Linked DNA regions of Homo sapiens. The protein of the gene in region 1 purifies or fractionates together with the protein of each later gene. This does not show direct contact. Each region holds a gene or a part of one and is shown on either strand. Other genes may lie near its edges. The genes, in order: MMRN1, CTSH and RNASE7.

What was found.
Region 2: the proteins of MMRN1 (region 1) and CTSH purify together in Homo sapiens (affinity purification with mass spectrometry; 3 studies listed by BioGRID and IntAct, with this or other methods). This does not show direct contact.
Region 3: the proteins of MMRN1 (region 1) and RNASE7 purify together in Homo sapiens (affinity purification with mass spectrometry; 3 studies listed by BioGRID and IntAct, with this or other methods). This does not show direct contact.

Annotation. Positions count from the first base shown.
Region 1 is NC_000004.12:89,897,717-89,901,367, forward strand, and holds part of MMRN1 (multimerin-1 isoform 1 precursor), read left to right. Parts: intron 1-3,651. UniProt on the Homo sapiens protein: Carrier protein for platelet (but not plasma) factor V/Va. Plays a role in the storage and stabilization of factor V in platelets. Upon release following platelet activation, may limit platelet and plasma factor Va-dependent thrombin generation.
Region 2 is NC_000015.10:78,928,039-78,931,689, reverse strand, and holds part of CTSH (pro-cathepsin H isoform a preproprotein), read left to right. Parts: exon of another isoform or gene 1-93; coding exon of another isoform or gene 94-183; coding exon 184-239; intron 240-2,196; coding exon 2,197-2,278; intron 2,279-3,651. UniProt on the Homo sapiens protein: Important for the overall degradation of proteins in lysosomes.
Region 3 is NC_000014.9:21,040,788-21,044,538, forward strand, and holds RNASE7 (ribonuclease 7 precursor), read left to right. Parts: upstream 1-1,574; 5' UTR 1,575-1,655; intron 1,656-2,165; 5' UTR 2,166-2,205; coding exon 2,206-2,676; 3' UTR 2,677-3,446; downstream 3,447-3,751. UniProt on the Homo sapiens protein: Exhibits a potent RNase activity.

The DNA.
Region 1 (3,651 bases):
TTGATGAATATTTATAATTTGCCCATCATGTGCTAGCACTGTGCTAGGCTTTGGGTTACACAGAATTTAAAAAAATAATAATAATTCCTCTGTCTAAGGAATATTCCCTATAAAAAGTAAACACTAACATACCTATCAGACTTCAAAAAATGTTAATATGTGCTATGAGAAAACAAGATACTAAAGGTATAACTTGCTGAACAGAACTTTATCCTCTGGATTTTCTAACAAAAATAATCTTAAACTCCTTCTATAGAAAAGTACTAACTGCATGTAGGGATTCTCTTATTTGAGGTCCTGGAGAGCCTGAGGTTTTCTTTTAGTAATCCTTTCCATTACCAAGATTCCTTACTCATTAGGCCATGCAAATGACAATGGCATTAGAGAAAAGCCTAGGTCCTTCACTTTTGGACACAGTGCTGCTGCAAACCCTTGATATGGTCAAAAGAAGTCCTTCGTACTTTCATTTGATTGGCAAATAATAATAATAATAGTAGCAAACACTTATATGGCATCTGTTACTAGTACTCTACTATTGTCAGTGAATATATTCACTCATTTAATCATTACTATAACTCCATAAAGAAGAGGAAGATTTTTATCATTATTTCTTTACAGAGGGATTAAGTAGCTTACCTAAGGTCACTTGGCTAACAAAGCTCAGGGCAAAGACTCAAATCCAAGCTGGCTGGCTTTAGAGTTGTAGCTCTCAGCTCCTACATTACACTCCCTTGGCAGGTACAGTCTCTTATCACAAGTGGGAAGATAAGCGTGACCAGTTCACTTCCCAGCTCGTGAGGCTTCACAGGCTATTGGTTGCCTCCAGAATACAATCTAGATTTGTTACCCAGTTAGTCACACGATGCCATCCTAGATCTGCCTCCTGCCTACCTCCCCAACCTCATCTTCCGCCACTTCCGGCTATTCAAATAAGTGGTTCTCTGGTACAATATGTGCTGTTTGTTAAACCCACCTTTCTTCCCTGTCTGCCCCTGTGACTAACAATGGGCCCTCTTTTGCCATCGTTCTCTCTTTTCACACCTAATAATAACTCCAGGAAGCCTTCTCAGGTGAAGTTAGGTGGCCTTTCTAATCGCTCCTACAGGTCTCTTTGAATTCCCCTGTTCACTGCACTTACGACACTACATAATAATCATAATGAATTTGTAGTATCTTTGCATATAGGGACTTATTTTCAGAGCTAGCAAAGTCTCTGGTTTATAGCAGGTACACAATCAATATTTAATCATACTGAATGTGAAATATGAGGATTAATATGTGAATATAAAGAAGAAAGCTTCCCAAATATTTGCATTTGTTTATGAAAAAAACCTGGTTGATTTAGAATAAACTCATATTTGTTCTTTTTTCTACCATTCTTGGAATTTTATAATAATTCTTAGTAAAAGGCGTATTTATGTTTATTACAGGTTCTTTTCTAGATTATTCAGGATTATTCTGGCATATTTTTGTTTCATCTTGTAGTTTTTCTTCTTTTTTTTTTTAGCCTTGCAGGAACTCCTGGCCAAAATAGACCTATGGTTTCCTGTCTGGCAGAGTGGGTGTTAGTCAATGACCAAGCACTTTGAAATAGGAAGGATGGAAATAAGAAATTAGGATTAGTGTATTTATATGTTGAACAAATATTTGCTGAACACCTTATCTGTCCCAAGCACTGTGCTTGTGCTGGGAGTAAAACAATGAACAAGAACTCCTACATGTCCTGCCTTATGGAACCAACAGCCCAGTGGCAGAGGTGAGAGGAGGAATAACAGTGAATCACAAATGCTGATTCTGAATGAAGCTTAAGAAATTGTAGTGTATAATGGGGGGAATGGCCTACCAATTGTGAATGGGGTCAGTAAACCTTGCCTGAGAGGATAATAGGTGAAATGAGGTAATGATACAATCTAACTGCCTACTTAGCTTTTCCCACAATTCCCAACCCCTGTACACATGTATCTTAATTTTTACCAAATCAGTGAATGGCTAGTTCCATAACTAGAAACCTTGGATAGATCTTTGGCATTTTTCTCTCCCTTCTGGTTTTTATCTAATCTATCAAAAAGTCTTGTTACACCTCTAATACATCCCAAATACCTCAACTTCTCTCCATCTTCTACTTGCCGTTATTCACCACTAGTGTTCTAATTGGTCCACTTCTTTCCACTCTTGTCTACCATAATCCATGATCCACAAAAGGGAGGGATCTTTTGAACATTTAAGTCAGATTAATGCATTTCACTGGATTAAGTCTTCATTATTGTAAGTGACACATTATTTTAGGTACTAATCAGAAGGAAAAGTATGACATCATACTTGCTTAATTTGAATTTTTAGATTTGTCTTTCAGACTTTGAGATTTTGGTCACATATCACTTTTGCAAACTTAAGAAGGAAATGTAAATGAAACTGGTAAAGTATTTCGAAGGCAATGGCAACAACTGCTATCTGACCACTAGTGACTGAAAAATGCCTTTGATTTCAAGACACATTCTTGATTTCAGAGATGTATGTCTTAAAATGTGTGAAATTTGGTCTTTCATTCATTGTCACACTCCAAGATCACTGCACTTCATTTCCTCCAGCCACACTGGCTTCCTTTCTGTTTATTGAACATGTCAAGTTAATATCTCAAAGGAAACTTTTTTTGCTCTTGCTGGAATGCTCTTTCTGCACCTTTTATAATGAAGGACTCCTCTTCCACTTGCACCTCCAGCTTTAATGTCACCTCTTCAAAGGGACCTTCTCTTACCACCCAATGTAAAGTTAACTATGCTCTCACTTGCCATTCCTTATTTTGTCACCTTTATTTTTTTCTTTGTAGGAATTATTTGAAATTATTCTACTTATATAGACAATGGTGTATTTTATGTCTTTCCGCAATACATCCCATGAAAACAGGGACCTTGCCTGTCTTATTACTACTCTATTTGCTGCCTAGAACAGTGCCAGGTGCATAGAAAGAGCTCAATAAAACTCTGTAAAATCATGGATTATTAGATGGGTTTGGCATCCAGAGGGGAGATCAAGGCTAGAGATATAAATTTGGCAAAGCATTGGTATATAGAAATGTATTAAGTCATGAATGTGGATGATACTGAAAGAAAGAAGGACCTTGAATTATGAACGGAGAATCTCTAATATTTGATGAACTGATAGTGGTGGATGCCAACAATACAGTCTTAAATGGGGTGACCAGAGAAGTTAGGAAGGAATCTATAAAAGTGTGGTGTCATAGAGCAAAGGAAGAAAATATTTTAAGAAGGAGGTAAGTGATCAACAGTGTGAAATGCTGCTGAAAAAGACAAAATGAGGACTGAAAAATAGCCACTATTTCAGTTTAGTGAGCACCATGCTCTGGCCTGAGAGAATTGAGGTATGAAGGAAGGCAAAAGAGAGCCATTAAAGCCAACTCAATTAAGGAGGGCTTTTATGAAAAAAAAAAAAAAAAAAGGAGAAAGTGGTCAGAAGCCAAGGCTAGTCCAGTTATTTATGTTTTGTGTTTGTTTCTTATAATATTTCATTTTAAATACAGAGGGCTCATACATATGTTAACATGTTAATGAGAAGGGTCAGAGGAAGGTAAAATTTGAATATGCAGAAAAAGAGGGATTTTTTTTCTGAGTTTAATGACAAATTAGAAAATTA
Region 2 (3,651 bases), on another chromosome or scaffold:
GCTGGGCTGGCACTGCAGGACATACAGCAACTGTCCCTGCCCTTGGGGAGTTTATAATTTGGTCACCTTGACACAGCACTGACGGGGCCTCAGATGTGGCTCAGCCAGGGAGGCTTAGCGCCTCACGCCAAAGCCTTGACGGCTTCTCAGCTGGCAGGTCACTGGGTTGTGTCCTTCTTCCAGGCGGAACAGCAGCTGGTGGACTGCGCCCAGGACTTCAATAATCACGGCTGCCAAGGGTACGTCTCTGACCAGAAGGGGCCCAAAACTTCCTCATTTCCCACTGACCGCTTCGACAGGATCCAGTGTGTGCTGGGTCTGCCACAGATATAACCCACCACTGCCCTGGGCGATGGCAAAATGGTCTCTGTTGTACAGGGGTGGTCACCTCACATGGCCAGGTCTCATAGCCAGGACAGGGCAGAGCTGGAATCTGAGTCCAGGCCTCTGTCCTCTCTCCACTGTATCACCTGGCTCTCCACAGTGCGGTTGGCCTCACCCGCCACCAAGGCCTCTGGGAGTGTGGCCAAAAGAATTTAATAGAGTGAGCAACACACCATTACACATCATCCTCCAAACCCGAGATCCACACACAGATACAGGGTTGGCCTTTAGATGAACTCACTAAAGTCCCAGCCTCCCAAGCTCATTGCGCCCTGTGAGGGTGAGGTGGCTGTGTGTAAGGGCTGTACCTTGCCTGGACCTGCTTTCCTGGCCCACTGTAAAGCAGGTTGCCAGGAATTTGCTGACATTTCTACAGTGACTCTAGCCCTCCCTTCATGCAGTGCTCTGAGACATTTCTGTGGTCTTTGCTCACCTGGCACATGGTGTGCATAAAGCCAGGCTCTTGGGGTGCCGTGCCTCGACTCCCCTCCACCTCCCTGGGGCACATCCCTCTCCCAGACCCCAGCCCCTCTGAGCTGGCTCTTCCTCCTGCAGGGAGCCGTGCTGCAGCCAAGTCCTGGGGACCCAGGGGTGACGTCGTAGCCTGCTCTCAGATCCACCATCATGCTCAGTGTCCCCTTACTTTTGGTCTGTTTCCACTCCACAGCTTAGAAACCCAACCCATAACAAGAGTCTGACATTTGGGCACTCTGGGGTCCCACCGTTTTTATTTTTTATTTATTTATTTATTTATTTATTTATTTATTTTTTCTTTTTTTGAGATGGAGTCTCGCTCTGTTGCCCAGGCTGGAGTGCAGTGGCGCGATCTCAGCTCACTGCAAGCTCCGCCTCCCGGGTTCACCCCATTCTCCTGCCTCAGCCTCCCAGGGAGCTGGGATTACAGGCGTGCGCCACCACACCTGGCTAATTTTTGTATTTTTAGTAGAGATGGGGGTTTCACCATGTTGGCCAGGCTAGTCTCGAACCCCTGACCTCAGGTGATCCACCCACCTTGGCCTCCCAAAGTGCTGGGATTACAGGTGTGAGCCACCACATCCAGCCTGTTTTTCAAAGGAGTCTATTTGCTTTGGTTCAGGACAGTACTTCCTTTTCTCATTCATACAACAAATATCACAGAGCACCCGCTGTGTGTAGGCCCTGGGGATACAGCGCTCAGCAGAACTGGAAGAGCGGGCATTCTGGCAGGCTCAGAGAGACCACAGTCAAGGCTAGACTAGGTCAGGCGGTGCGGAATGCTATGGAGAGAAACAGAGAAGGGACGGGGATTGCTGGGCAGCTGCTGAGTTTTTGTTTATTCTGGGAGGCCACATGATGTAGAAAAGACCCACTTTTGGAACCACTTCCCAGCTTTAGCTGTGTGGCCCTGGCCAGGTTATTCAGCCTCTTTGCCTCAGCCAGTGACAGCATCCACCACACAGGGTCGACACGAGGGGTCAGGGAGTCATGCCTGGGAAGCACCTGCCCAGGGGCTCGGCTGTGGCGATGACAGTGCTCTGGGCTGATGCTGTTGACCATGGTGTGGGGCTGTGCACTCCTGACAGAGCGGCTGGCCTTAAGGGGTCTCTATCCCACTGAGGCATGTTTGGGCTGGTCCTTGGACTCCGGTGGCCTCATCTGAGTTTGCTGAGTCTTATCCCAAGGCTGGGCCTCTCAGAGACCCCCTCTGCCACTGGGACATGCCCAACCAAGTCCCCAGCCTGCCAGGCCAGATATCTCGCCACGCCAGTCCCCGAGGGCCCCGCCTCTATCAGGACAGCCCCAGGTGGGCTCACCTGTGTGTACTTCTTGCAGGGGTCTCCCCAGCCAGGCTTTCGAGTATATCCTGTACAACAAGGGGATCATGGGTGAAGACACCTACCCCTACCAGGGCAAGGTAACTCCAACAGCCTCCACTCTGTCTTCTTGGCGTACAGCATGCCTAGCTTCACTCCCTCCCCAGCCTTGGAAGACATCCCTTCTCCCCCCACCTCCCTCCCGCCGGAATTCTCACAATTGTCTGTTCTCTCCAAATTCTTCCTTCCCCTCCTCCACCCACCTGAGCCCACTGCTCTCACCAGTCCAGGGGCCTCTTTATCATTCTCACCCCATACCCGCTCTGCGGCACCATCTCTTTCCTTCCCGAGCCAGACTTCTCAGGACCCCTCCTTCCCCCCACCTGCCCCATCTTCCTGGCTCCTCTCCCTCCTGCCACGAGCGCCATCCTCTCGCCTCTGTCCATGCAGTTGGCCTCTTGTGCCAAGGACCCTTTGGGGGCCCACCCCCACCCCTACCCTATCAAGGCTGCTGGGCCTCCCACCATCACCTCCGCCCAGCCTGGCCACAGCCAAGTGCCTTGTCTTTCCCCAAGACCTGTTGCTCCTCCTTTATTTCCCCTCGTGGTGATGAGCAGCACTGGCCTCCCTCAGAATTTCCCAGGTGTCCACAGTCCTGTTGGGCCGGTCCCCCTCTCCACCCCACCCTGCCGCCAGCCTGCTGACCACCACAGACCTCACATGACTCCCTTGGCCCATCTGTGTCGCTGACCACTCAGACCGGGGCCTCCATCCAGACCCCTGAGGGTGGCCTCCCCCAGGCCTCTCAAACCCAGCTCAGACCCCACGCCTGCCTCGATCAGAATGCCGCCGAGGCTCCATGCGGCCTTCGGGAGAAAGCCCAGACTCCAACTCAGTCTCCCTGTCTCTTTTACTCTCCCTTCTTTTTTTTTTTTTTTTTTTTTTTTTGAGACGGAGTCTTGCTCTGTTGCCCAGGCTGGAGTGCAATGGCGCAATCTCGGCTCACTGCAACCTCCGCCTCCCGAGTTCAAGCAGTTATCTGCCTCAGCCTCCTGAGTAGCTGGGAGTACAGGCACCCGCCACCACGCCCAGCTAACTTTTTATATTTTTAGTAGAGACAGGGTTTCACCATCTTGGCCAGACTGGTATTGAACTCCTGGCCTCGTGATCTACCGCCTCGGCCTCCCAAAGTGCTGTGATTACAGGCGTGAGCCACCGTGCCCGGCCAACTCTCCCTTCTTAACCTCACGCCCAGGCCCAGCCACATGCTGGTTCCTAAATGCCAGGTCCTACCCTCCCTCTAGTTCTGTCCCTTGTCCTGCTGCCTTCTCTCCTGCCTTGAAAGGGCTGCGCTTCCCTCCTTGTGACCTTACCCCTGCACCTGCCTCTTGCCAGCATTGTTTTTTGGGCTGAGACTGTCCCCACTCCCCTGCCTCACAGGCTCTGACTCGGCCTCCACTTCTCAGTGAGTTTC
Region 3 (3,751 bases), on another chromosome or scaffold:
TCAAGTCTCTGCCCCAGAGTCAGCGATTTCAACGATGTTACGTAAAATTACTGACCACCAACCCCTATACTGTTCTACTTTTTTCCCTAGCCATTATCACTTTGAGCAAAGTATACGTATTTTTTTTTACTGTCTTTCTCCAATGGAATGTAAGCTCTACAAAGGCAGGGACTTTTGTCTTTGTTTTTTGTTGTTGTTTGTTTGTTTGTTTGTTTGTTTTTTGAGACAGGGTCTCACTCTGTGACCCAGGCTGGAGTGCAGTGGTGCAATCATGATTTTCACTGCAGATTTTATCTCTCAAGCTCAAGCAATCCTCCCTCCTCAGCCTCTGGAGTAGCTGGGACCACAGGCATGCACCACCATGCCTGGCTAATTTTTCAAATTTTTTATAGAGACAGGGTTTCGCCACATTGCCCAGGCTGGTCTTGAATTCGTGGCCTTAGGCAATCCTCCTGCCATGGCCTCCCAAAGTGCTAGGATTACAGGTGTGGGCCACCGTACCTGGCCATTTTTGCCTTTTTTGTTCAGTGATATATCCCAAGTATCTTGACACTTAGTAGATGCTCGATAAATGTTTGTTGACCACATGAATGAAGCATGCCCAAGATTCTGAGATTGCCTACTACTTACAGGTAAATTCTGAAAACAAAAATATTCCTCATCTCAGTTTTACAGGCCTTCTCACCCACAGAGGGTGATGCTTCTCTGCCTTGGTGTCTCGGTTCTCCTGAGTGTCATATTCCAAGCTCACAAGAGCTTGGAGTAGCACTGACCCAGATGCTCCACACAGCTGTAACCACCACAAGGAACAGGACATACAAGGTGAAGGAAGCACTAAGGCAGGATGTCGAGAGCAGCAACAGCATTTTAAACACAAACATTTGGGCAGTATTAAATTTTTGCAATTTTCAATAAAAAAGGGAGGGAACAAGTGAAATTGAGAGGTGTTGGCTGCCTTCTCCAGCTAAAGCCATGTGGCCTTGGTTGGTACCTGGAACTGGAGAGGCCTGTGAATCATTGTGGAATGGCTTCGCTATTGGGGATGGTGCCAGGCCTCGTGACAGTGATGATTCATTCACCCACTTCCCTCGTGTCTGTTCCATCTCCTCCGAAAGATAACCAGTATCTCCAGATGACAAGGAACCAGACAAAGCATCTTTCTAGGCTGTCCTATCTGTGCCTCAGGTCAGAGAAGAAGCAACCCTTAACACCACAGTGATTGACTCTTCCCAGGATCAAGGGCCAGAAGTGTATATGAGAGGATATGAATGACAACTCTTCCTGAAATTGATTTCAGTTGACACCTGGGTCAGGTGCTCTATTAAAGAGTCATTAAAATCATGTGGCCAGGGAACAAATACAGTCTTCGAATGTGACGATTCAAGCTTCCTCATTGCTGAACATGTTTAGGCAGGTACAGGCATCCTTAGGTGTCCACGTATTTGGGACATGTAAGTGGAGAGGCATGAACCTGATTCATTTCCTGATCCAGTGATGCTCCCAGCCCACCCCCAAACAGACACAGCGTAGCCCGGGCCAGCTCTTAAGGAGTTCAGGAGTGAGAAGAGGCCCTCAGAGATCTGACAGCCTAGGAGTGCGTGGACACCACCTCAGCCCACTGAGCAGGAGTCACAGCACGAAGACCAAGCGCAAAGGTGAGGCTGTGGCAGGATCTGGGGAGGAGTGAGGACAGAGAAGGAGGGATGGGTTCTGATCCTGAGAGTACACTCAGGTGAGCGATAAAATGGATAAAGGAGGGACTGGATTTAGGGGAGATGAGGACACGCATTGGGGAAAGGGGAGAGTGATGTTGGGGATGGAGGCAAAAAATGAAAAAGAATGGGAACACAGACGAGATGGGAATCGGGAGAGGATGAGACACAGACACAGGAACATGGAGACACAAAAGGGATGAGACTTAAGGGAAAGGGGAGAGGACAAAGAGTGACAGGCAACAGGGACAGAATGAAGGGAACAGAAATACAAGATGAGAGATGGGGCCACAGGGTTGTTGTTGGGGCTGCAGTGGATGTGGACACACAGAAGAAGAGGCAGAGATGAGACACAAAGTGAGGAAAGGAGACAACCGAGTAGGGAGATGGGTGACTAGCTCATATGAGCAGGTATAAGAGGACTAATTTCTCAACTGAACACCTCTGTCCCAGCGACCCCTGCCCTCCATCCTGACTGCTCCTCCTAAGAGAGATGGCACCGGCCAGAGCAGGATTCTGCCCCCTTCTGCTGCTTCTGCTGCTGGGGCTGTGGGTGGCAGAGATCCCAGTCAGTGCCAAGCCCAAGGGCATGACCTCATCACAGTGGTTTAAAATTCAGCACATGCAGCCCAGCCCTCAAGCATGCAACTCAGCCATGAAAAACATTAACAAGCACACAAAACGGTGCAAAGACCTCAACACCTTCCTGCACGAGCCTTTCTCCAGTGTGGCCGCCACCTGCCAGACCCCCAAAATAGCCTGCAAGAATGGCGATAAAAACTGCCACCAGAGCCACGGGGCCGTGTCCCTGACCATGTGTAAGCTCACCTCAGGGAAGCATCCGAACTGCAGGTACAAAGAGAAGCGACAGAACAAGTCTTACGTAGTGGCCTGTAAGCCTCCCCAGAAAAAGGACTCTCAGCAATTCCACCTGGTTCCTGTACACTTGGACAGAGTCCTTTAGGTTTCCAGACTGGCTTGCTCTTTGGCTGACCTTCAATTCCCTCTCCAGGACTCCGCACCACTCCCCTACACCCAGAGCATTCTCTTCCCCTCATCTCTTGGGGCTGTTCCTGGTTCAGCCTCTGCTGGGAGGCTGAAGCTGACACTCTGGTGAGCTGAGCTCTAGAGGGATGGCTTTTCATCTTTTTGTTGCTGTTTTCCCAGATGCTTATCCCCAAGAAACAGCAAGCTCAGGTCTGTGGGTTCCCTGGTCTATGCCATTGCACATGTCTCCCCTGCCCCCTGGCATTAGGGCAGCATGACAAGGAGAGGAAATAAATGGAAAGGGGGCATATGGGATTTGTGGACACAGCTGTTTCTGTTCCTGAACTAGAAGTCTTCCCCAGCTCTGACGTGGCAGTGAGGTGACCTGAAGGAAAGAAAAATATAAATAAATACCACTTCATATTTGTATAGAATCCTCTAATCCCTTGTGACATAGACTTGACAGGGATTGTATGCCTTCTTTATGGATGAGGAAATTAAGGTTTTAGAAAGCTTAATGAATTAAAGAGCTTGTCTAATTAGTTAGTAGCAGAACCTGGACTTGAACCTAGGTCTCCTTGCTCTAAATACAGTGTACCTTCTACTCTACCAGTTGCGCAAGAAAGAAGTCACTGTTACAGAGGCAAGCGGTGAACTAGGTAAGAGTTCACTCATGAAGAAACGAGTGCTCTGAAGAGCCAGTTACCCTGTGTTGGCTGCAATAAAGGTCATTACCTCTCTAGCCAAGAGATTGTTTATGAGGTGCTCTGGCATTTTATTCCTTCTCTCTCTTCCTCTCTAACTGCCCCTCCCGTTTCTCTAGACCACTGCTCTTCCAACCTAGGCCCTGGACCTGGCTCTGGCCAGATCCCCTTGGCCTGAAGACATAAGGTAAAGGGAGTGTCTGAGCTTCATCCCCCAGATCCAGGATCACATTTCCTTTGACCTTAAGGGACTTCCGTGGCCCTGAGCCTGCTTGTCACAAACAGGCTGGTGGGAGCTGCCAGAGCTTCCTTCCTCCTGATAATGATCTCCCCTGCCTCATTGCTACC